Linked DNA regions of Homo sapiens. The protein of the gene in region 2 interacts with the protein of the main gene of each other region in a pairwise test. Each region holds a gene or a part of one and is shown on either strand. Other genes may lie near its edges. The genes, in order: MAPK6, EGLN3, PLEKHA2 and ZC2HC1A.

Region 1 (7,038 bases), on a different chromosome or scaffold from region 2:
CCACCCCATCCTCTGGTTTTTCTGTGTATACTGTTTATTTTTCCAAAGGGATTTGAGGAGTTTGTGGACAGTAAAGTGTTTGTTGTTTTTGTGAGACAGGGTCTTGCTCTGTCACCCTGGCTGGAGTGTAGTGGTGCGATCACTGTTCACTGCAACCTCTACTTCCCGGGCTCAGGTGATCTTCCTGCCTCAGCCTCCGGAGGAGCTGGGACTACAGCTGTGTGCGACCATGCCTGGCTAGTTTTTCGTATTTTTTGTAGAGATGAATGTTCACAGTGTTGCCCAGGCTGTTCTTGAACTCCTGGGCTCAAGCAATCTGCCTGCCTCAGCCTTCCAGAGTGTTGGGATTACAGGTGTGAGCCCCTGCTCCCAGCCCATAAAATGTATTGTTAATGTGAATTAAATTTTTGGAACTATTTTGGAAGAGTATTGCATGATTTATACCTAGAGGTTTTTTTTTTACAAAGTTTAATTCAAACTTAAAAAAAATTTCCTACTAGAGGAAACATAAAAATACAAATATAAAAGTATTGAAAATTTTCAGAGCATCACATTACTTAGAGGTTTAACGTATTTTCGGCATTGTTTTCAAATATAGGTAATTAGCTGTAGTGCATAATTCAGAGTTTAAAAACAAACTGAGGCCGGGGGCAGTGGCTAACGCTTGTAATCCCAGCACTTTGGGAGGCTGAGGAGGCAGATCACGAGGTCAGGAAATCGAGACCATCCTGGCCAACATGGTGAAACCCCGTCTCTAATAAAATACAAAAATTAGCTGGGTGTGGTGGCACGTGCCTGTAATCCCAGCTACTCAGGAGGCTGAGGCAGGAGAATCGCTTGAACCCGGGAGGCAGAGGTTGCAGTGAGCCGAGATTGTGCCAGTGCACTCCAGCCTGGGTGACAGAGCGAGACTCCGTCTCAAAAAAAAAAAAAAAAAAAAAACCGAAAAACAAACAAAATAACTGGATATCTTAGCCTGCTTCCTGTCTCCAAGGTACTGCTTTATGAAATGCTGAGCCTTCTTACCACTGCTATCCAGTTCTTTGTTACATTTGAACCTTGTGTTACTCTAGGTCCCCTGTTAAAATGGAAAGAAGATGCCTCAGAAGTAAATTCTGTGTGGCATTGTTGGCTGCCTTCATTAGTTCCTTCAGCCTGTTTTGTGGGCTGTTGAACATTACACTACAACCTGCCAGTGGTGTGGGAATTTTGCTCATTTTTATTGCTGAGAGCCTTGACTGAGACTTCACAAAAACAACTCCAATGTTACTGTAGTTAATGGCATTTTCCAGGGGTTGCTTTCATGTGAAGCTGATGCTTTTAAGGTGACAGTGATTTGGGCCTAGTCCAGCATTGATTGGTTTTTTCACCTCCATGAACTGCGTATTTGGAAAATAATGTGTGTCTCTCTAAGAGTTTTTTTGTTTGTTTGTTTTTTGTTTTTGAGACGCTGTCTCCCTCTGTTGCCAGGCTGGAGCGCAGTCGCGCCATCTCGGCTCACTGCAACCTCCACCTCCTAGGTTCAAGCGATTCTTCAGCTTCAGCCTCCCGAGTAGCTGGGACTACAGGTGCGCACCACCATGACCAGCTAATTTTTGTATTTTTTTTAGTACAGACAGGGTTTCATTATGTTGGCCAGGATGGTCTCATCTCCTGACCTTGTGATCCGCCTGCCTGGGCCTCCCAAAGTGCTGGGATTACGGGCATGAGCCACCGCGCCCAGCCAATAGAGTTCTAAAAGTTTTGTCTTTTATACATGTCAGTCTTCTAAGTCCATTTCTAAAAAATTGTTCAGAGATTGAATGTTTGTATAGCAAATACAATTTCCCATTGATTTTCGTTAAATTTGGTATTTTTTTCACAGAAAAAAATGGTATCATAAAACTTGTTTTTTAGAATCCTAGCATTTACCTCAGAAAAGTCTGCCTCTGCAGAAAGTGCAAATCTGTATGCATTTAATTCTGTACAATCATAAAACTTTAAAATATTAGTGTTTTGGAGGGGTCATGGGCATTATCTTGCTTCATTCATGTACATCGTTTGACAGCTAAGGAAACCAAGGCCTGAAGAGATCTAAGATCTTGGTACTGAAAGTGTGATTTCTGGACCAACAGTATTAGCATCACCTGGGAACTTGATAGACGTTAGAATCTTGACTTCATCTCAGTCCTACGGTCCTACTGAATTAGAATCTTAGAATCTACTTTTTCTTTTTCTTTTTTTTTTTTTTTGGAGACGGAGTCTCACTCTGTCACCCAGGCTAGAGTGCAGTGGCACGATCTTGGCTCACTGCAAGCTCCGCCTCCTGGGTTCACGCCATTCTCTTGCCTCAGCCTCCTGAGTAGCTGGGACTACAGCTGCTGCCACCGCGCCTGGCTAATTTTTTGTGTTTTTAGTAGAGACGGGGTTTCACCGTGTTAGCCAGGATGGTCTCGATTTCCTGACCTTGTGATCCGCCCGCCTCGGATCCGCCCGCCCGCCCAGCACTCCCAAAGTGCTGGGATTACAGGTATGAGCCACCGCGCCCGGCCTTCTTTTTTTGTAAATAAGAGGCACAATCTTGCCCTGTTGCCCAGTTTGGATTGGAGTGTAGTGGTGTGATCATAACGCACTGCCACCTGGAACTCCTGGACTCAAGTAATCCTCTCACCTCAGTAGCTGGGACTACAGGCATGTGCCATCATACACTGCCTTTTTTTTTTTTTTTTTTTTTTTTAAGAATTGGAGTCTCACTGTGTTGCCCATGCTCGTCTCAAACTCCTGGCCTCCTAACGTGCTGGGAAGAACCTGCATTTTAACAAGATTTTCAAGTCATTCAGTGCGCATTCAGTTTGAGAAGCACTGCTAAACGATGCATACACCTGGGCAACATAGTGAGACCCTGTCTCTACAAAATAAAATAAAATTAGCCTGTTGTAGTGGTGCACACCTTTAGTCCCAGCTACTTATGAGGCTGAGATGAGAGGATTGCTTGAGCCCAGGAGGTTGAGGCTGCAGTGAGCCGTGATCGCACCGCAGCGTTCCAGCCTGGGCAACAGCAAGAGACCCTGTCTCAAAAAATACGTAAATAAATAAAAATTAAAATGATGCATACATGGTTGCTCAGCTCGTTAGTCTTCTGAGTTGCTCTTTCCACTGGCCCTTCTGAAAAAAGTCAAATGGAAAATTTGGAAGCTAATCACTGCCCAGTTGAACTTTCTATGATGATAGAAGTGTTCTGTGCTATCCAGTGAGGTAGCCATTGGCCATGTGTGACTGTTGAATACTTGACGAGCAAGTAGTGCACTTGAGGAATTGAATTTTTTATTTAATTTTAATTCCTTTAAATAGTTGGGGCTGGGCGCCGTGGCTCACGCCTGTAATGCCAGCACTTTGGGAGGCTGAGGCGGGCGGATCACGAGGTCAGGAGATCGAGACCATCCTAGCTAACATGGTGAAACCCTGTCTCTACTAAAAATACAAAAAATTAGCCGGGTGGCGGGCGCCTGTAGTCCCAGCTGCTTGGGAGGCTGAGGCAGGAGAATGGCATGAACCCAGGAGGCGGAGCTTGCAGTGAGCGCCACTGCACTCCAGTCTGGGTGACAGAGCAAGACTACGTCTCAAAAAAAAATAAAAATAGTTGGATGTAGCTGGTGGTTACATGGACAGCACAGATCTAGATGATCTTTGCCCACTCTAAAATCTAAGCTGTAATTTAATAACTGGTTAGACTCAGTTTAATAATTGTCCTTTCTTAATGTACAAATTGGAGAGAGAGTATGTTGACTTAGTTTTTCTAATATGCCCAGATATTATTTCAGTATGTATTATAAAACAGTGCTGATTTTCTAATTGATACATCTGTGTTCAATAAAGTAGATAATCTAAGTTGTAAGCAAGTCAGTTTCTTTCCATCTTAACAGGTATTTTCACTTGAATTTTTAAAAAGTAGCTATTAAGTTTTCCTTAGTTATCCTGTGGAAAGCATTGGCAGGATAGTTTTTGCCTCTGGCCTAGTCCCTCTAGGCTTGTTGGCACTTGTTGATTACTTCCAGATTGATCTGCTGTTTATGTTAATTCCAGGTACCGAAACAGTGGTTCTTAACCTCCTACCTTTTTTTGTTTTGTTGTTGTCGTTGTTTTGAGACGGAGTTTTGCTCTTATTGTTCAGGTTGGAGTGCAATGGTGTGATCTTCGCTCACTGCAGCCTCCGCCTCCTGGGTTCAAGTGATTCTCCTGCTGCAGCCTCCCAAGTAGCTGGGATTACAGGCATGCACCACCACGCCCAGCTAATTTTATGTTTTTAGTAGAGATGGGGTTTCAACCATGTTGGCCAGGCTGGTCTTGAACTCCTGACCTCAAGTGATCCACCCGTCTCGGCCTCCCAAAGTGCAGGGATTACAGGCGTGAGCCACCGTGCCTGGCCTTAACCTCCCACCTTATGCAGTGGGAAGATTCTAACCCTATAGTCACAGGCCTATGTCCAAATCTTGGCATTTACTGTGTGTGTAAAGAGCATCAGTGCTCTTGTTTGTAAAATGACATTTACAAGACTGTAGTTTGAGATGAGAGAAATAATTTGTCATTTAGAAAATGCCTGTCATGGCTGGGCGCGATGGCTCATGCCTGTAATCTCAGCACTTTGGGAGGCCGAGGCAGGCGGATCACAAAGTCAGGAGTTCTAGACTAGCCTGGCCAACATGATGAAAACCCGTCTTTACTAAAATACAAAAAATTAGCTGAGTATGGTGGTGCATACCTGTACTCCCAGCTACTCTGAAGGCCCAGGCAGGAGAATCGCTTGAACCCAGGAGGCGGAGGTTGCAGTGAGCCGAGATCACACCATTGCACTCCAGCCTGGGCGACAGAGCAATACTCTGTCTTGAAAAAAGAAAATGCCTGTCACAGCCGGGCGCGGTGGCTAATGCCTGTAATCCCAGGACTTTGGGAGGCCGAGGCGGGCGGATCACAAGGTCAGGAGTTCAAGACCAGCCTGGCCAGCGTGGTGAAACCCCATCTCTACTAAAAATACGAAAAAACTGGCCATGGTAGCGTATGCCTGTAATCCCAGCTACTCGGGAGGCTGAGACAGAAAAATTGCTTGAACCCAGCAGGCGGAGCTTGCAGTGAGCCGAGATCGTGCCACTGTACTCCAGGCTGGGTGACAGAGCGAGACTCCCTCTCAAAAAAAAAAAAAAAAAAAGAAAATGCCTGTCACATAATAGGTCCTTAGTAGATGTAAGTTACCTACCCTCCCCCTCCTGCTTGGATTTTATAGCCCTCTGTAATTGAGTTTTATGCTTAAGATTCCAATCAGGCTTAATACATATTCTGAGTCTTCATCTCTACCCGTTACTGTAATTTCATGCCTTGCTTTGTTCATGTTGTATCCCATGTAGATTGTGCCATTTGTGCTCTGGATGTCTTCTCTTGACTTTTTTTTTAATCTTAATTTTTTTTTTTTTTTTTATAGGCGGGGTCTCCCTGTGTTGCCCAGGCTGGGCTCAAGCAATCATCCTGACTCGGCCTCAAAAAGTGCTGGGATTACAGGCATGAGCCACTCTGCTCAGCCTGTTGATTTCTCTTTATTTATTTATTTATTTATTTATTTATTTACTGTTTTTTGAGATGGAGTCTCACTCTGTTGGCCAGGTTGGAGTGCAGTGGCACGATCTTGGCTCACTGCAGCCTCTGCGTCCCAGATTCAGGTGATTCTTCTGCCTCAGCCTCTTGAGTAGTTGGGACTGCAGGTGCCCACCACCACGCCCGGCTAATTTTTGTATTTTTTTTTTTTTTTTTTTTTTTTGAGACGGAGTCTCGCTCTGTTGCCCAGGCGGAGTGCAGTGGTGCGATCTCAGCTCACTGCAAGCTCTGCCTCCCAGGTTCACGCCATTCTTCTGCCTCAGCTTTCCGAGTAGCTGGGACTACAGGCGCCTGCCACCACGCCCGGCTAATTTTTTGTATTTTTAGTAGAGACAGGGTTTCACCGTGTTAGCCAGGATGGTCTCGATCTCCTGACCTTGTGATCCGCCCGCCTCGGCCTCCCAAAGTGCTGGGATTACAGGTGTGAACCACCGCGCCCGGCAATTTTTGTATTTTTAGTAGAGACGGATTCGTCTCTGTGTTGACCAGGCTGGTCTTGAACTACTGACCTCAAGTGATTCATCTGCCTTGGCCTCCCAAAGTGCTGGGATTACAGGAGTGAGCCATCGCACCCTGCCAGCCTGTTGACTTCTTAAGGACTTACCTCGTTCTTGCCTACATCATGAATTTTTCCCTTTCTGGATTATCTTTATTAATATGCAGATGTGCTTTAGGGCTGTACTGTCCAGTATGGTAGCTACTAATCAATAGTGCTTTCTGCAATGAAATGTGTGGCTGTTAAAAGAAAAATTTAAAAAATTTAGGTCCTCAGTGATGCTAGTCATATTTCAGTTGTTCAGTAGCCATATATGGTGCTAATGGCTGCTCTATTGGACAGTGCAGATATAGAACATCCCTATCATTGCAGACAACACTATTGGACAGCACTAAGTGTGGCTTCCTTGTTTATAAGCCCTCTCGCCATTCCACATTATTCTCTAGCTACAGCCTCATTTCTCTGATTCTCTTCCAAGCCAGTTTTCAAAAGTTGTCTTTTTGTGCTCTCTCCACTTCCCTTTGCTTCTCAGCCTACTACAGATTGGCCTCCATTCTTACCACTAAAACTACTCTAGTCAAGGTTGCCAGTGGTTTCTATTTACTAAATTAGTCTTACAGGCTCTTGTAGGAGCATTCAATATAGTTGACCACTGTTTTCGGCCTATTCATCTACTTCTCATTTTATGAGACATATGTTCTTGTTTTCCTTCTACTTTACACCTTGTTATACTGTATGCTTTTTTTTGTTTCTGAGACGGAGTCTCGCTGTCGTCCAGGTTGGAGTGCAGTGGCGCAATATTGGCTCACTGCAACCTCCATCTACTGGGTTCAAGTGATTATCCTGCCTCAGCCTCCCCAGTAGCTGGGATTACAGGCGCACACCACCACGCCTGGCTAATTTTTGTATTTTTAGTAGAG
Region 2 (3,386 bases):
TCTAGTAGTACCATTAAATCTCTTTCCTTATATCTGCTTATCTTTCACAGATATGCTATGACTGTCTGGTACTTTGATGCTGAAGAAAGGGCAGAAGCCAAAAAGAAATTCAGGAATTTAACTAGTATGTGTTTGATAATTTTCTGTGACTTTTGATCAAGTTAATCCTTGACTTTTATTCAATTTTATGTAGTTTTAAACATGTTCTGTTCAATCTGTTACGGCTTAGCTTTATATATAATGACATCTTGATGGGTTTTATCCTGAAACCTTGGCCTTAGGGCTCTTAGAAAAATCAGAAACAATGCAAGGGGCTTCCCCTGAGAATGCCCACTGAATGTATGATGGTTTATGATAGATGGGAAATAGTTAACTTTTTCCTATTAATGTTAACCAGTCAAATGTAACATTAAATTTTGCCCATGATTTTTGGCATATTGCAAAGGAAATATAATGGAACCCAGTTATGATGGCAAAATTTATTATATTGGGTGAGACTGTGACTCTCAGTATAACAGCAGGGCTCATGTAATATAAACTGAATATAACAGCACTACTCCTATCCCTTCCAACCAGTATTAGAAGGCAGCATTTCCCAAAATACGTTGCATTAAAACACAAATCCTGCCAATTTGGTAAATTCCTGGTCCCAAAAATGTGGGAAATGTTGCATGCTGTATGCCTGTCTTAAAAAGAGTCACATTGCTCACTAGCATATTAAATTAAGGCGCTAAGAGATCCTGCAGTAAGGAAACATATATAATATTGCCTAGCCCATAACCCATTTGGACTGTATACCTCTCAAATACCAAAGTGGTCTCCAAATTGCACCCAGGAAATCTCAGTTTGTTTTCTCTTCCAGATGGCCTACACTGCTTAACTCTGATATGTGAGTGAGGCTACACTTCATACAACTTATGCTCAGCATTAGCCCAAGAGGTGCCAATGCTGGATGTAAACCCAAAGTTCCTCCACAGTCTGTGAGGCATATGGGAAAGATCCCATTGCAAAGTCAAGAGAGAATCCTTTGGCAGAGCTCTATTAGGAGGCTTATATAAGATGGGAAGTGTTTACTGGAGGCTTTTTGGTGACATTTGTGACATAAAACTCATCAGAGCTGACTCCATACCCTCTTTATTCTCCTTTCTGTCCCCAACCCAGGGAAAACTGAATCTGCCCTCACTGAAGACTGACCGTGCTCTGAAATCTGCTGGCCTTGTTCATTTTAGTAACGGTTCCTGAATTCTCTTAAATTCTTTGAGATCCAAAGATGGCCTCTTCAGTGACAACAATCTCCCTGCTACTTCTTGCATCCTTCACATCCCTGTCTTGTGTGTGGTACTTCATGTTTTCTTGCCAAGACTGTGTTGATCTTCAGATACTCTCTTTGCCAGATGAAGTTACTTGCTAACTCCAGAAATTCCTGCAGACATCCTACTCGGCCAGCGGTTTACCTGATAGATTCGGTAATACTATCAAGAGAAGAGCCTAGGAGCACAGCGAGGGAATGAACCTTACTTGCACTTTATGTATACTTCCTGATTTGAAAGGAGGAGGTTTGAAAAGAAAAAAATGGAGGTGGTAGATGCCACAGAGAGGCATCACGGAAGCCTTAACAGCAGGAAACAGAGAAATTTGTGTCATCTGAACAATTTCCAGATGTTCTTAATCCAGGGCTGTTGGGGTTTCTGGAGAATTATCACAACCTAATGACATTAATACCTCTAGAAAGGGCTGCTGTCATAGTGAACAATTTATAAGTGTCCCATGGGGCAGACACTCCTTTTTTCCCAGTCCTGCAACCTGGATTTTCTGCCTCAGCCCCATTTTGCTGAAAATAATGACTTTCTGAATAAAGATGGCAACACAATTTTTTCTCCATTTTCAGTTCTTACCTGGGAACCTAATTCCCCAGAAGCTAAAAAACTAGACATTAGTTGTTTTGGTTGCTTTGTTGGAATGGAATTTAAATTTAAATGAAAGGAAAAATATATCCCTGGTAGTTTTGTGTTAACCACTGATAACTGTGGAAAGAGCTAGGTCTACTGATATACAATAAACATGTGTGCATCTTGAACAATTTGAGAGGGGAGGTGGAGTTGGAAATGTGGGTGTTCCTGTTTTTTTTTTTTTTTTTTTTTTAGTTTTCCTTTTTAATGAGCTCACCCTTTAACACAAAAAAAGCAAGGTGATGTATTTTAAAAAAGGAAGTGGAAATAAAAAAATCTCAAAGCTATTTGAGTTCTCGTCTGTCCCTAGCAGTCTTTCTTCAGCTCACTTGGCTCTCTAGATCCACTGTGGTTGGCAGTATGACCAGAATCATGGAATTTGCTAGAACTGTGGAAGCTTCTACTCCTGCAGTAAGCACAGATCGCACTGCCTCAATAACTTGGTATTGAGCACGTATTTTGCAAAAGCTACTTTTCCTAGTTTTCAGTATTACTTTCATGTTTTAAAAATCCCTTTAATTTCTTGCTTGAAAATCCCATGAACATTAAAGAGCCAGAAATATTTTCCTTTGTTATGTACGGATATATATATATATAGTCTTCCAAGATAGAAGTTTACTTTTTCCTCTTCTGGTTTTGGAAAATTTCCAGATAAGACATGTCACCATTAATTCTCAACGACTGCTCTATTTTGTTGTACGGTAATAGTTATCACCTTCTAAATTACTATGTAATTTATTCACTTATTATGTTTATTGTCTTGTATCCTTTCTCTGGAGTGTAAGCACAATGAAGACAGGAATTTTGTATATTTTTAACCAATGCAACATACTCTCAGCACCTAAAATAGTGCCGGGAACATAGTAAGGGCTCAGTAAATACTTGTTGAATAAACTCAGTCTCCTACATTAGCATTCTAATGGTTTGATTAATATATTCCATCTTTGGCAGGAAGGGCTTGCTAGAATTTTTACACACATCTTTTTAACATTGTTGACTTACACATTTACGCTAAGAGTTTTAGAACGCTTTGGTCATAGTGTTGCTTCGTATTTGTATACCCATGAATAGGTCATTCACTGACCACTATGAATCTGAAAATTGAACAAATTATATTTTGCCCTTCCATATCCTAGAAACAACATTAGTAAAATAACATTAGTCTCAGATAGGACAGAGTGAATTCCCCTTTCGAACAATCTTGAAAAATTTCAATAGGAAAGAAAGGACGAAGTTTATTAGGAATTTTGTATTCTGTAAAATTGTAGTTATATATTTTTCATGATTTCTAATGTCATAAGAATGATAGTGACAATATTCTGAAGGAGGATCATATAGTTCCAAAAGCATGTCTTGTATTTTTCATTTTAGTCAATATGCCAAAAGATCTGACCTCCAAGGCTTTGTTTATTCCTTCCAGACAAAGGTCCTATAAGC
Region 3 (7,038 bases), on a different chromosome or scaffold from region 2:
GCAGCGGGGACTTTCCCAGGAGCCTGGTCTGTACCCAGTTCTCTCCCACCTCGTCTTTTTCCTTGGCTGACCAAACACAAGTTGAACTGAGAGTCTGAGTTTGAATCAAGTTCAAGGGGAAGTTCATGGAGCGTCCCCTTTGTGCTTCCTGGGAGGGCTCCCGATCAGTCATGTTTCGGGTGATTCTGGGATGCTGATTCAGAATGTGGTAGGATTGGAAAATGGATTGGTGACTGTGAAAAGTCAAGTAAGGGGAAAAGCATATGGGGAGGGAAGTCAGAACTTTTTCCCAGCTTGGGGGATACTCTTCTTACTTTCAGAGGCTGCCTGCAGGGTCAGTCCAAGCCATCCGCCTCCCTGTCCTAGAAAAGCCTTCTGTTTAAAAGCATCACAGAGCTCGTTCATGGACTGTCCTACGAGTGTGCTCTTTTTCCTTGAGTTGGCTAATGAAGAATTCCTTTCTTTTTCCTTAGAGATATAGAAAAAGAAAGGAAGAAGGGTAGGAAGGATGGAGAGGGGAAACTATGTTTTGGAAAAAACTAGACTTTTAATCAATAAGACAGGCAGACTCCTGGCTTATATAGATCATGGCTTCTTTGCTGAAAAGTTTGTTTCTGTATCATACAGTCAGAAATGCTTATGTTTGAGGGGCTTCCAGTAGTGACTATTACATGCTGCAGCAAATTATCCTCCCAGATTTCTCAGGGTTCCTGTGAACAACTGTATAGAAGAAATTTGTACACGTATATAGTATTCATATTGCTAGACCCAACCTGAGTGTAATTGAGTCTCCTATAAGCACTTTTGCTGATTAGCTTCTTATTCTGATAAACCTTGGTAAACCCGTGAAAAGAGAGAGTGATGAAAAGAGAGAGGATGGATGGCTGGGTGCAGTGGCTCACGCTTGTAATTCCAGCACTTTGGGAGGCCGAGGTGGGTGGATCACCTGTGGCCAACATAGTGAAACCCCGTCTCTACTAAAAATACAAAATTAGCTGGGCGTGGTGGCACACGCCTGTAGTCCCAGCTACTCAGGAGGCTGAGGCAGGAGAATCACTTGAACCTGGGAGGCAGAGGTTGCAGTGAGCCGAGATCGTGCCATTGCATTCCAGCCTGGGCGACAAGAGTGAAACTCCACCTCAAAAAAAATAAAAAATAAAAAAATTAGCCAGGCCTGGTGGCTTACACCTGTATTCCCAGCTACTTAGGAGGCTGAGGCAGGAGGATCACTTGAGCCCAGAAGTTTGAGGCTGCAGGGAGTTATGATCGCACCACTGTACTTCAGCCTAGGCAACAGAGTGAAAGCCCATCTCTTAAAGAAGTCTCAGGTAGTGTAAACAGCTTTGGAAAGGCTCTGCATGTTGATCTGAAGCACTGCATGACACCGGAGCATAAGCACTGACAAACAGTGTTCTTCGGGATTTTGAGAGGAAACACAGCAGCCAAGCTTCTGTGCCTCCTTTTCTGGCCACTGGGAACTCTAAAAAGTTACTTTCTGGCCAGGCGCGGTGGCTCACGCCTGTAATCCCAGCACTTTGGGAGGCTGAGGCGGGTGGATCACAAGGTCAGGAGTTCGAGACCAGCCTGGCTAACATGGTGAAACCCCGTCTCTACTAAAAATATAAAAACTAGCTGGGCATGTTGGCATGCACCGTAATCCCAGCTACTTGGGAGGCTGAGGCAGGAGAATCACTTGAACCCAGGAGCTGGAGATTGCAGTGAGCCGAGATCGCGCCACTGCACTCCAGCCTGGGCGACAGAGCAAGACTCCATCTCAAAAAAAAAAAAAAAAAAATTGTTATTTCCCTCCTTCTTTGCTGGGTTTCAGGAATTCATCTGGGTCATTTAGGGGAAATTTCTGCAGTTCCATGGTGATTTTAATCACTAAATATCAACTAAAAATCAACATCCCTAAAAATGTGGTTACATAATAACAGAACTCACAGAAAGTGAGAAAGAGTAGCTTAGGTAGGTCGTGACATGCAGCAACAAGGAGTCAGGCAGTCCTAGAGCCAAATCACTTAATTTTAATGAGCTTGAGTTGACCTCATCTATAAAGTGGAGAAAATCATGCCTGGTTGATAAGATTAGTGATAATGCAGCAAAGAGCTTATCAGTGCATTGCCTGGCACTGAATGGTGGCCCAGAGAAACTGTAACTGCTGGTATCTCTCAGCCAGAAAGAAAATAGAAGGCGGAATTTCTGGCCTGATTTGGAGGGGTAGGGAGGGGGCAGAGGACGTCCTTGTCTATGTAAACTGAGTGTGCAGTCCAGGAAGAGAAGGTCTCGTTGTCTTTGTGGGGGCCCAGCATAATCAGGGTGCTCTTATTGTTTTGAACAGACACCAAATGACAGGGCTGTCATATAGCTCTGAGCTCGGATCCTTAGGTCTTTCTTACTCTGAAAGCTGTAGAAGTGGGAGAGGACCTTAGCTTTTCTCTCGAAGTCCCGGTGACGTCCCGGCAGATAGATGTAGGGTGTTGCGTTCTCCTGAAGGTGGGGCATTGTGATGCTGGGGCACTGGTGGGAAGTCAGAGTTTAGTAGACATTCAGCTGTTTTTTTGTTTTGTTTTTGTTTTGAAACGGAGTCTCGCTCTATAGCCCAGGCTGGAGTGCAATGGCGTGATCTCGGCTCACTGCAACCTCTGCCTTCTGGGTTCAAGCGATTCTCCTGCCTCAGCCTCCTGAGTAGCTGGGGTTACAGGTGCCCGCCACTACGCCCAGCTAATTTTTGTATTTTTAGTAGAGACGGAATTTCACTATATTGGTCAGGCTAGTCTCGAACTCCCGACCTCAGGTGATCCGCCCGCCTCGGCCTCCCAAAGTGCTGGGATTATAGGCATGAGCCACTGTGCCTGGCCGACATTCAGCTGTTAATCCTGGCTTTGGGTAAATGACTCAACTGTTCTGGACCTCTTTTTTTTTTTTTCTTTCTAACAAAATGAAAGATTTCCTCAGCATTTGCAGACTCTAGTATAAATGAGTGAAGTGGGCAAGGAGGAGGAAACAGGGCAACAGGAATGAGGATAAGTGACATTTGACCCCTGGCCTCTCCCGTTCTGCTGGGGAGAATGGTAGGGACTGTGCAAACACAATGTATTTTCTATCTAAAAGGGAACTGCTGCATAGCTGAAAATCTGGATTTTTCTGTGAAATATCCCAAAACTTAGATGCAGATTTTAAAAAATACTGCATGTGACTAACAAAACATTGTTTGGGCAAAGTCAGTGGGTGGGCCACCAATTTGCAACCTCTGGCCTGTGATTTCCAACTAACAATAAAAATTTTATGATGATTTGATCAGCTGTGGTACCATATCTCTGTCAAGGAAGAGCAAAGATAGCTCATTCTTCCAAAAGGGCTCTGTGTATAATTATTAGTAACAACGTGGGAAGCCTTAATTATAATATTTTGTAATATGTTTTTCTTTTTAGTTGTGTTTCTAAAGCATTTAATATACTCTATCATTTGATAACCACAACGATGGTTATGATAAATATTATTCCACTTTTCATTTTATGCATGAGACGGTTTAGGCCTAGAAAGGTTTGATGGTTGCCAAAGGTCTCTCAGGTGGTTCGTGAGAGGTGAAGGGTTATACCACACATCTTCTGGCTCCAGACTTCATGGACCCCTTGTTCTGTCTCTACAAAGGCATGCATGCATTTTTACCTGTTCAATCTGCCCAGAATGCCTTCTCCCAGCTTCATGTTCCTGGTTCCTTTTATTTAGTTTTTTATTTTGTATTTTTTTCGAGACAGGGTCTCTGTCACCTAGCCTGGAGTACAGTGGTGTGATTATAGCTCACTTCAGCCTCCAATTCCTGGGCTCAAGAGATTCTCCTACCTTGGCCTGTTGAGCAGCTGTGTGCTACCACACCTGGCTAATTTTTTTTTTCATTTTTAGTAGAGATGGGATCTCACTATGTTCCCCAGGCTGGTCTTGAACTCCTGGGCTCAAGTGACCCTCCTGCCTTGGCCTCCCAAAGTGCTGGGGTTACAGGTGTGAGGCCCCGGACCTGGCCCCCATCTCCTGCTTACCCTCCAGGTTGCCGTTTGAGTGTCTCCCTGCCTTCTCCTCTAGAGACCTCCCTGCCCACTCTGTTTCCAGCAGGTCCCCTGCTGTGCGCTGCCTCAGCTCTCTTGATCTTCTTTGTGCCACTCACCACCATTTGTAATTACTCTGTTTGTTTTACGTTTTTTTTTGTCATTCCCCCTACTAGCATGTAAGTGCCGTGAAGGTGGGGACCCACGTGTGTTTCGCTTGACACTTTATCTTTGGTTTCTAGCCAGGGAAGGGCTGGCTCATAAGTAGGCGCTCAAGAAATTCCTGGAGTCAGTTTGTATCTGTGTAGGGGGAGGGCGTTGCTGGTTGAGATGCTCATATTCAGATTTGGACTGTGGAAGGCTTGGGGAGGACACGCAAGTCTGACTGTAATTTGGCACATGAGCTTTTCTCACGGCAGCCCCATTCTGTTTTGGGCTCCCCATGTTTCCTAAATGTTCTGTTCCCCATTGATTGTTGCTGCCGCTCACCCCAGGTTCCCAAAGGTGGGGGCCTACCCATGACCACTGAAGTTCTCAAGAGCTTAGCAGCTCCTCCAGCCCTGGAGAAGAAGCCACAGGTGGCCTACAAGACGGAGATCATTGGAGGGGTGGTGGTCCACACACCCATCAGCCAGGTGAGGGGCCTGACTGGGGCTGCGGGGGGAGTGGGGGTGTGGAAGTGTCCATGGTGTGCCCATGATGTGCTCGGAGCACTGTACTGGGGAAAAGGAGGGTGGGAGTGGGGGGCAGCTGGTGCCAGTGGAGCCATCAGGAAAGTACAGGTCATGTTACATCCCCATTCATGGGTGTTAGTGACGGCAGTGCGGAAGTGGAGGCTGCTGCATCTTGAAGCCATGTGGCCTGTGCAGTTCTGTGCCGAACACGGGAGACACAGAAGATGAGGGTTTGTGAAACCATAGGAAATGGGACAGAGCATGGCAAACAAGGCTGGAAACCAGCCTGGTGTCCCTGCTGGTTCACATTCCCTATCCTTCCCTTTCTCCTGGGTCGGCCCAACCTCCCTGATGCTGGTTCTGTGAAAGTACCCAGTAGAGTGCATGACAGAGAAAGGAAAGGTTTATTTTCCTGTTTTAATTATTTATATTTATTTAAGTTTTTTTTTTTTTTTTTTTTTTTTGAGATGGGGTGTCCCTCTGTCACCCAGCCTGAAGTGCATATACACATAATCACGGCTTATTGCAGCGTCTGCCTCCTAGGCTCATGCAATCCTCCTGCCTCAGCCTTCCTAGGCTCAAGTGATCCTCCCACCTCATCTGGGACCACAGGCATGTGCCACCACGCCTGGCTAAATTTTTTTGTATTTTTTGTTGGAGATGGGGTTTTGCCATGTTGTTATTTAATTTTTTTAGAGACAAGGTCTCGCTGTGTTGCCCAGACTGAAGTGCAGTGGTGCAATCATGGCTCACTTCAGTGTCAGACTCCTGGGCTGAAGCCATCCTCCAACCTCTGCTTCCTGAGTAGCTGGGACTACACGCCTGGGTAATTCTTTTTTTTAATTTTTAAATTTTAAAATCAAAATTAAACAAAAATTTTAAAACAATTTTTAATTTTTTTGTAGAGACTGGGTCTCACTGTGTTGTCCAGTCTGGTCTAGAACTCCTGGGCTCAAGCGATCCTCCTGCCTTGGCCTCCCAAAGTGTTGGGATTACAGGCGTGAGCCACTGTGCCCACCATTTATTTCTTCTTTGACTTAGGGCAAAGAGGCCAGAGATTCAGGCAGAGGGAGGTAGGTGGGGCTGTGGCTGCATAGAGGGAGGGAGGCGCTGATACTGACACTGTTTCCTTGCAGAACGGTGGGGATGGGCAGGAAGGGAGTGAGCCCGGGTCCCACACCATCCTTCGAAGGTCTCAGAGTTACATCCCCACGTCAGGCTGCCGTGCTTCCACTGGGCCTCCCCTCATTAAGAGTGGTTACTGCGTGAAGCAAGGGAATGTGGTGAGTGTCAGCACAGGGGCTGAATTGGGGTTCTGGTGACTCCTCAGAGCCAGTGGCTGTAGACATAGCAGAGGTGAGAGGGGATTGACAGGAGGTGCCTCAGTCCTCCATGGAGCCTCCACCTTTGAGGGTGAGATTTTGGGACTGACCTTTGGCTCCCACCTGTCAGAGGTGTTGCCCCTGATATGAAGAAGCCCTTGCCCCTGCTGAATGTGGGAGCCGGACTTCCATGGGGCTGGGTCCTTGGGAGCTTAGCATGAGTACACCCTCCACAATGCTGGGCACCTCTCGCTAATGGTCTGCCTTTTATTTTTTTATTACAGCGGAAGAGCTGGAAACGTCGCTTCTTTGCACTTGATGACTTTACCATCTGCTACTTCAAGTGTGAGCAGGTTTGTAGTAGCTTTGCTGCCCTTCTGAGAGGTCATGGAAACTAAGAGGTGCATAGGTGCACACCCACAGGAGAGCGTGCATGAGTGGAGATGTGGGCACACAAAGACTTCAAAGGCGCCTCTGTCTTATCTCCATTCTGTGCACACATCTTTACAGTGACACTAAAGTGTCCTCTCTGCAGTGAGCTGCTGTGTGGTCAGAGTCATAGCTACACAACATCTTCTTCTTATATTTTTTTGTCTTTTTTCTTGTTTTTGGAGACAGGGTCTTTCTCTGTCACCTGTCACCCAGGCTGGAGCACAGTGGTGGATTTTTTGTAGAGACAGGATTTCACTATGTTGCCCAGGCTGGTCTTGAACTCCTGGCCTCAAGCAATCCTCCAGCCTTGGCCTTCCAAAGTCCTGGTATTACAGGCATGAGCCACTCTGCCCAGCCAGATTTTTTTTTCTCTTGCTGATTATTTTGAGACCAGATTATTTGTCAACCTGATTTTAGCCAACCATCTCTGAGAAAGGGGTATTGGTCAGCTGGTCTGGGTCGTGATATGACACAGACAGCCTCACTTACCTGTCTTTCTGTTCTTTCCACCAGGACCGAGAACCACTGCGCACCATATTTCTTAAGGATGTTCTGAAGACCCAT
Region 4 (7,038 bases), on a different chromosome or scaffold from region 2:
AAAATTTCTGTTTTGTTTTATTTTTTCGTAGTATAAATGTATACTAGTTTACTGTATAATTCTTTATCTTTATTAATTTATCTAGCATTTACTGCTTTTTGGTAGTGAGTTGGATGCCAGATATTTTAATAGACAGTATATTGGAGAGGACTGTGTTTGAATCCTTGCTTTGTTTCTTTTTAGCTCTATGATTTGGGCAGTTTACTTAATCTGAACCCTTATTTTCCCTGCTATGAAAAAAATGGAGCTATTAAATATGTAACTACCTAAATTATATTAAGTATTAAATAATGTAATATATGTAAAACATTTAGCTAAGTACCTAGTGCATAGGAGGCCCTCTCAGTGTGTGTTTGTTAGATGGCGAAAATCACAAAAAGCATGTTAGCAGGTCCAGTATAGGTAAAACATAGCATGCTTGGGAGGAGCGAAGGAAACATTGAAGCCAAGAGAGAAAGGACTTTAAAGGTGAAAGAGATTTGTCAGCAGTGGCTCAGACTGTAGAAAGGCCCAGTAGGATGGGGATTCAAAAGAGAGCTTCAGATTTGACAATTAGTAAATAGTAATCCGTTACCTTCCTTTTTAATGTCATTATTGTGTCCTTATTAAACAAACTTTCCCTGATTATCCATACTTCTCCAAGACAGCATTATGACCATCTCTTCTCCCCTTACTTTGTTCTACCTTCATTGTGGTTATCACCATGTAACATTTTATATATTAGTTTTTATTCATTTTTTCCCTGTTAGATCAGTGAAAGCTCTATAAGATCAGAGTATTTGTTTTTTATCATCCTTATACTCCTACCTCCTAGAACAGTTTCTGCCTCATGCTAGGTGCTCAACAAATACTTATTGAATCAAGGAATGAATGTATTTCTTTCTTTCTTTCTTTCTTTCTTTTTTTTTTTTTGATACGGAGTTTCGCTTTTGTTGCCCAGGCTGGAGTGCAGTGGCATGATCTGGGCTCACCACAACCTCCGCCTTCTGGGTTCAAGCGATTCTCCTCCCTCAGCCTCCGGAGTAGCTGGGATTACAGGCATGTGCCACCAAGCCTAGTTAATTTTGTATTTTTAGTAGAGATGGGGTTTCTGCATGTTGGTCAGGCTGATCTCGAACTCCTGACCTCAGGTGGTCTGCCTGCCTCGACGTCCCAAAGTGCTGGGATTACAGGTGTGAGCCAACGCACTCGGCGGAATGGATGTATTTCAATATAGTGCTTGGCCTGATAATGTCTCCCTGCAGTTCAGACAGTGAGTGAATGAGAGGCAGAGAAGGACTAAGCAGAAAATGTAAGTTAGTGTTTCAAAAAATGTGCTCATCAGGACATTGGTGGAGAACATTGGTTTTGGGAGTACAAAGGATTTCTGATAAAATAAATTTGGGCAAATAACAACATACTAAGCTTCTTTTTTTAAGACTAAGGGAGTTCTGCTCTAAGAGAACCCATTTAACTTAGGTTAATGTACCATTTTCCAAACATTTGGCCATGTAGCAAGGGATTCGTGGATAATTCCTAGTATAAATGATGGGTCATGTTCAGACTGGGTAGGAAAGGACATGCAGCCAGGAATGAACTTATTAAGAAAAGCAAGTCACTCTGAGATCAAGATAGTAACTTAGAGAAAGGTAGGAGGTAGAATTCTATGGTTAAAGAGGAAACTTGAGTGTTTTAAAGTCCAGAGTTGGTTGTTTTGGCAGTAGTTTTGCTGAACTAGAGTGTAGGTGACTAAAATGCTGTGAAGGATGAAGGTTGTGTGTTGAGTCGGGTAGGCATTGACTAGGTTAAGACAAAAACTCTTCTAGGATGAGCTGAAAAGGGTAAATCTTCTGAGACACTGGATAATATTGATCTGAAAGTAATTCGATTTTGGAAAGGATATTGGGAAGAAAGTGATATAACATATTTAGTGCTTCAGAAGAAAGATTTGTTGAGTGTTAAAGGAGTCAAATGAACGGTGATAGAATATAAGACTTACCAGCAGTGAGGAGATGGACATGCCACAAGGGAGGCCAGAACTGTTCTTAATTTCCAAGATTTCTTTGAAAATGTTCTCTCATAGTTCTTAAATGTATGCATTTTAAAATGTCACAACTATTTGAAATAAAATCTTTATTTCTCATCACTTATAGTGTTAGATAAAGATACCATTTCAAGTCTTACCATCATGCAGGTTTTGAAGTTGCAAAACATAAGCAACTCATAACAGAATCAACAGTGTGTGCCAGATAGATTTTGTAAGGAGAGATTGGCTTCTTAAAAGTTCTAGAATATTAAAGTACTTTATTGACTTGGTTGTATCCATCACCTTGAGTGCTTATTTCAACAGTATTTGCTCTCTGATATAATATTCACCAATAATCACCCCTCTGAATATCATCTTTCTCTTGTATTTTTATAAGCTGCAAAATTTGCTAGTTTTTGCCACTTAGGAAAGGTTAGTGGAGATTGCCTGCATGCCTTGGAAAGTAATATTTTTTATTTCTGTAGGTTATGAAACATTTTTATATGTAATAATTGATCCTCTGAAATTTTAAAGTAAATTGAGCAGATATTAGCCTCATTTAACTGTTGTTAAACTGAGTCTGCCTATATGATTATCATATATTTCTTTCTAATTCATGTCTTAAAGGCTTCTCTAACAAGGAGTTCTTTGCTGTAGGTCCTTTCAGGTTCTCAGTTCTCTGTGTAGATAAGTGGAAGTTATTTCCTTAATGTGGTGTACACTACCTGAAGCATTCGTTCTACCATCTGCAGTTGGTTTAATCATTCTTATATATAAACTTTATTTAAAAAGTCAGTAAGAAAGATGTCTTCCATGTACTTTTCTTGCTAATGTAGTCTTAAGGTAGATTTTGTTAAATTACCGTACGTTACAGATAAAAAGGGACCGTATGTCATTTAACTTAACTTCCTTATTTTATGTAAGGAAATCTAAACCTTAGAGAGCTTAAGTATCTTGCCTGAGGACTCATAGTTCTCAGTGACAGAGCTGGGGACTTGAAGTTAGATAATGTAAGACAAATTCCAGTGCTTTTTCAACTATACTGTCATGTCTTTTAATGAATTTAATTAGAGCAAAATGTGGCTTTTGACTCTGAGGCCTAAGGTATTTATCATGATCTGGGTAGAAGATTCTATTAATATTTTTTTAAAAATTATTTTAGTAATAAAATTTATATCCAGGCACATGATGATTATTTTAATTGAGAGAAAGGTACAGCCACTTTATTATTTAATTAGTTGTGTGTGTGAGGTCAGAATATTTTAACCCCTTGGTCCAATTAATCTTAATATAAGTATCATATGTATAAAATAACAATTCAAATAATACATGCGGTTTGCATAACTAGGTGATCTTAACCTTATAGCAGTATGCTTTCTATTATCTGGTGATAAAGAGAAAACGATTTTTTTTACCCTACACTCTGCAGATCAACTCAGTATGTCACTTAACTGATCACCAGCAGTATTTCTTCATGCCTTGGAGATTAATAAGATAAATTTTGTTTTTAAGGTTTAGTAATTTACCGTAGAGATAACCTTTAAGATAAAAGAACATGACAAATTGATTTGGTTAAAATAATTACAAGAAAACTACATATTTCCAACTAATCAGCTTGGTTATCCTTAAATTATGACTTTTCTGTGTTTATTCTGGTCTTTTTGCCCACTGGTAACTCTTAAGCCCATTTTAATTGATAATTTTTCTTACTTCAAATTACAGTAAGAAATTTGTTTTACAGCAACTGACAACTTACCAATGAAACTAAAGAAAACATTATAATGTGAAGTTTCACAATTTAAACTACATAAATTATTTTTAATTTTTTTTTTAATTTTACTTTAAGTTCTGGGCTACATGTGCAGAACGTGCAGGCTTGTTATACAGGTATACATGTGCCATGGTGGTTTGCTGCACCCATCAACCTGTCATCTAGGTTTTAAGCCCCACATGCATTAGGTATTTGTCTTAATGCTCTCCCTCCTTTTGCCTCCCACCCCCTGACAGGCCCTGGAGTGTGATGTTCCCCTCCCTGTGTCCATGTGTTCTCATTGTTCAGCTCCCACTTATGAATAAGAACATGCGGTGTTTGATTTTCTGTTCCTGTGTTAGTTTGCTGAGAAAGATGGTTTCCAGCTTCATCCATGTCCCTGCAAAGGACATGAACTCATTCTTTTTTATGGCTGCATAGTATTCCATGGTAGACATGTGCCACATTTTGTTTATCCAGTCTATCATTGATGGGCATTTGGGTTGGTTCTAAGTCTTTGCTATTGTAAATAGTGCTGCAGTAAGCATACGTGTGCATGTGTCTTTATAGTAGAATGATTTATAATACTTTGGGTACATACCCGGTAATGGGATTGCTGGGTCAAATGGTATTTCTGGTTCTAGATCCTTGAAGAATCACCACACTGACTTCCACAATGGTTGAATTAATTTACACTCCTACCAACAGTGTAAAAGTGTTCCTATTTCTCCACATCCTCTCCAACATCTGTTGTTTCCTGACTTTTTAATGATCGCCATTCTAACTGGCGTGAGATGGTATTCTGTTTTAGAGAATGAAAGCGTTGTCCAAATTGGAGAATTGTTACCTTGCTACCGGGTAGAAGTTCCCTCCGTAGGTCTTGACATCAACACACATGCACATGCCATATTTTGTCAATTATAGTGCTATGCTCTATGACCAGCTAATATTAGAGGACATTATAAATTTATATATGTGTTTTATATATATCTTTATTTTGGGTGAAGTAATGACATTCTTCTCTAAACAATATTTCTTTGGGGGATAATTGCTTTTAAATTATCCCCAAATAGCATTATTTTAAAATGGTATTGTATCTGTTTATGCCTTATAGTGATAATAATTTTCGTTTTTTAAAAAAACATTTTAAACATGTTTGATAACTTGTGGAAATTAATGTCAAGAACTGGATATTATTATATGGTAATATTTGGTTGCTTTATGTTTTAATTTTTTGTATGAAAAATAGGAGTTGATTTGGTTCTTAGATCTATTTAATAAGTAAATAATATAGATTATGTTAGCTTTATGAGAGCAATAATTGTGTTATTCTGTCCTTGTGTTAATATTACTTAGTACATGCTTGGTACGTGGTTTTTCTATGTGCTGAATCCATTTTTGTCAATAGTTAATTTTTATAAGATTTTGCTTTGTCATCTAAGAAGTAGATAAGCAAATACACTTTTAAGCAAGTATAATATGTGGTGCTTTTTAATATTTTGTATTGATGAATTTTAAAATCATTGCTTAGTATTTAAAGGAATACGTTAAAACTATAAGCAAGCTTAATAGATTAGTTAGCGTGTGATGTTACTGAGACCATCATTTTGAAGACTGTCTTATCTAAATGAACCTAATGGTTTCCATTTAGTAACTCTGGATTGTTAGTGGACTTAAGTGATCCAGATAAATGAGATTGCCCTCCCTAAATAACTTAGCTCCTGGTGTTGGAGAAGGACAAGTCAGGCAAATCTTAGCTTTGCTTTTGTAGTGTTGACTGCTTAACTGCTACTACACAACATTGCCTCCATCTGAGATGAAAAGTAATCACTATCCACCAGTCAAGTAGGGCAGTGGAGTAAGAAATGAGAAAACAAAACAGTTCTTCTGTTACTGTATTTGAATGCATTCTTACCAATATCTATTTTGGTTTGCCTGTTTAGTTCTCTGTGAACTCACTAAATGTCTTGGATCAGGTTATATGGAGTTATATAATTGTACTTTTTAAAATTAGTTTGTTACTTCTAAAGAAAAATGTTTTTCTATTTGTCTTTCATATGATAAAAGAATTTTAGCATCTCTAAAATATTCAGCAGAAACTATGGGGAACATGTTACATGTTTAAGTATCATTTTTAGGAAATTATAGCTATGAAAACAAGTTTATGTTTGATATTTGGAAATAAAATAAAATGACAAAATGAATTATGCAGAATCACAAAGAATGCAGTTTCTTTTTTTGTAGTTTCTTTTTTTTTCTTTTTAGTAATAACATTTGTTGTATTCAGTTACATGATAGTTATATTAATTTTATTAATAATTGAGTGAAAGTTGTAGCTACCTCTTTATTTAATTTTGTTTGTAAGGTCAGAATATCTCCATTTACTAGTCCACTGACTCTTAATATAAGTATTATATGTATAAAATAATAATTCACATAATACATGTAATTTGCATAACTAGGTGATCTTAATCTTATAGCATTGTACTTTCTATTGTTTGGTGGTAAACAGAGTAAGATTCGTTTTATTCTAGATTCTTCAAATCATCTCAGGAAGTCACTGAACTCATCACTAATGGTATTTCTTCATGCCTTGGAAATTAATAAGATAAATTTTGTTCTTAAAATGTAGTAATTTACCATAGAGATAGCCTATAAGTTAAGAGAATATGACAAATTGATTTGCTTAAAATAATTACAAGAAAACTAGATATTTCCAGCAGTATCAGTTTGGATATCTTTAAATCATGACTCCTCCATATTTATCCTGACCTTTTTCACCACTGATAACTAAGTATTATGCTCCTTTTCATAGATAATTTTGCTTATTTCAAAATGCAGTAAAACATTTTTCACAAAAACTGATAATTTACCTATAAAACTAAGAGAAAACATTAAAATGTGAAGTTTCACAATTTCAAGTTATATAAATTATTTATTAAATTCCTTCCTGTTTTAGAGAATGGAGGTGTTGTCCAAGTTGGAGAATTGTTACCTTGCAAGATTTGTGGAAGAACATTCTTTCCAGTAGCATTAGTGAGTAGACTGATTTTGTACCTTTATGGTTTTACAGATCTGTAATTGTTCAATAATTCTGGTCAATTCTCATGGGAAGAATTTACGTGGAATAGTTTTTGAAGAGTTAATGGGTACTATTCTTTGTTCAAGGGTCTTGATTTCAGCTATGCCATTCTTCCAGAATGCTTTCTTTCCTTCAGAGTTTGGTCTTCAGAACTCTTCTGTTAAAGTTTAAAGGTATTCCTCATTTTACGAGACTCTTACC

What was found.
Region 1: the proteins of EGLN3 (region 2) and MAPK6 interact in binary tests that used the Homo sapiens proteins (3 or more experiments, as listed by UniProt).
Region 3: the proteins of EGLN3 (region 2) and PLEKHA2 interact in binary tests that used the Homo sapiens proteins (3 or more experiments, as listed by UniProt).
Region 4: the proteins of EGLN3 (region 2) and ZC2HC1A interact in binary tests that used the Homo sapiens proteins (3 or more experiments, as listed by UniProt).

Annotation. Positions count from the first base shown.
Region 1 is NC_000015.10:52,022,187-52,029,224, forward strand, and holds part of MAPK6 (mitogen-activated protein kinase 6), read left to right. Parts: intron 1-5,452; exon of another isoform or gene 5,453-5,687; intron 5,688-7,038. UniProt on the Homo sapiens protein: Atypical MAPK protein. Phosphorylates microtubule-associated protein 2 (MAP2) and MAPKAPK5.
Region 2 is NC_000014.9:33,923,698-33,927,083, reverse strand, and holds the end of EGLN3 (prolyl hydroxylase EGLN3), read left to right. Parts: intron 1-50; coding exon 51-124; intron 125-1,161; coding exon 1,162-1,193; 3' UTR 1,194-2,857; downstream 2,858-3,386. UniProt on the Homo sapiens protein: Prolyl hydroxylase that mediates hydroxylation of proline residues in target proteins, such as PKM, TELO2, ATF4 and HIF1A. Target proteins are preferentially recognized via a LXXLAP motif.
Region 3 is NC_000008.11:38,946,310-38,953,347, forward strand, and holds part of PLEKHA2 (pleckstrin homology domain-containing family A member 2), read left to right. Parts: intron 1-4,540; coding exon 4,541-4,681; intron 4,682-5,856; coding exon 5,857-6,003; intron 6,004-6,326; coding exon 6,327-6,395; intron 6,396-6,987; coding exon 6,988-7,038. UniProt on the Homo sapiens protein: Binds specifically to phosphatidylinositol 3,4-diphosphate (PtdIns3,4P2), but not to other phosphoinositides. May recruit other proteins to the plasma membrane.
Region 4 is NC_000008.11:78,669,073-78,676,110, forward strand, and holds part of ZC2HC1A (zinc finger C2HC domain-containing protein 1A), read left to right. Parts: intron 1-5,971; exon of another isoform or gene 5,972-6,714; coding exon 6,715-6,791; exon of another isoform or gene 6,792-7,017; coding exon of another isoform or gene 7,018-7,032; intron 7,033-7,038.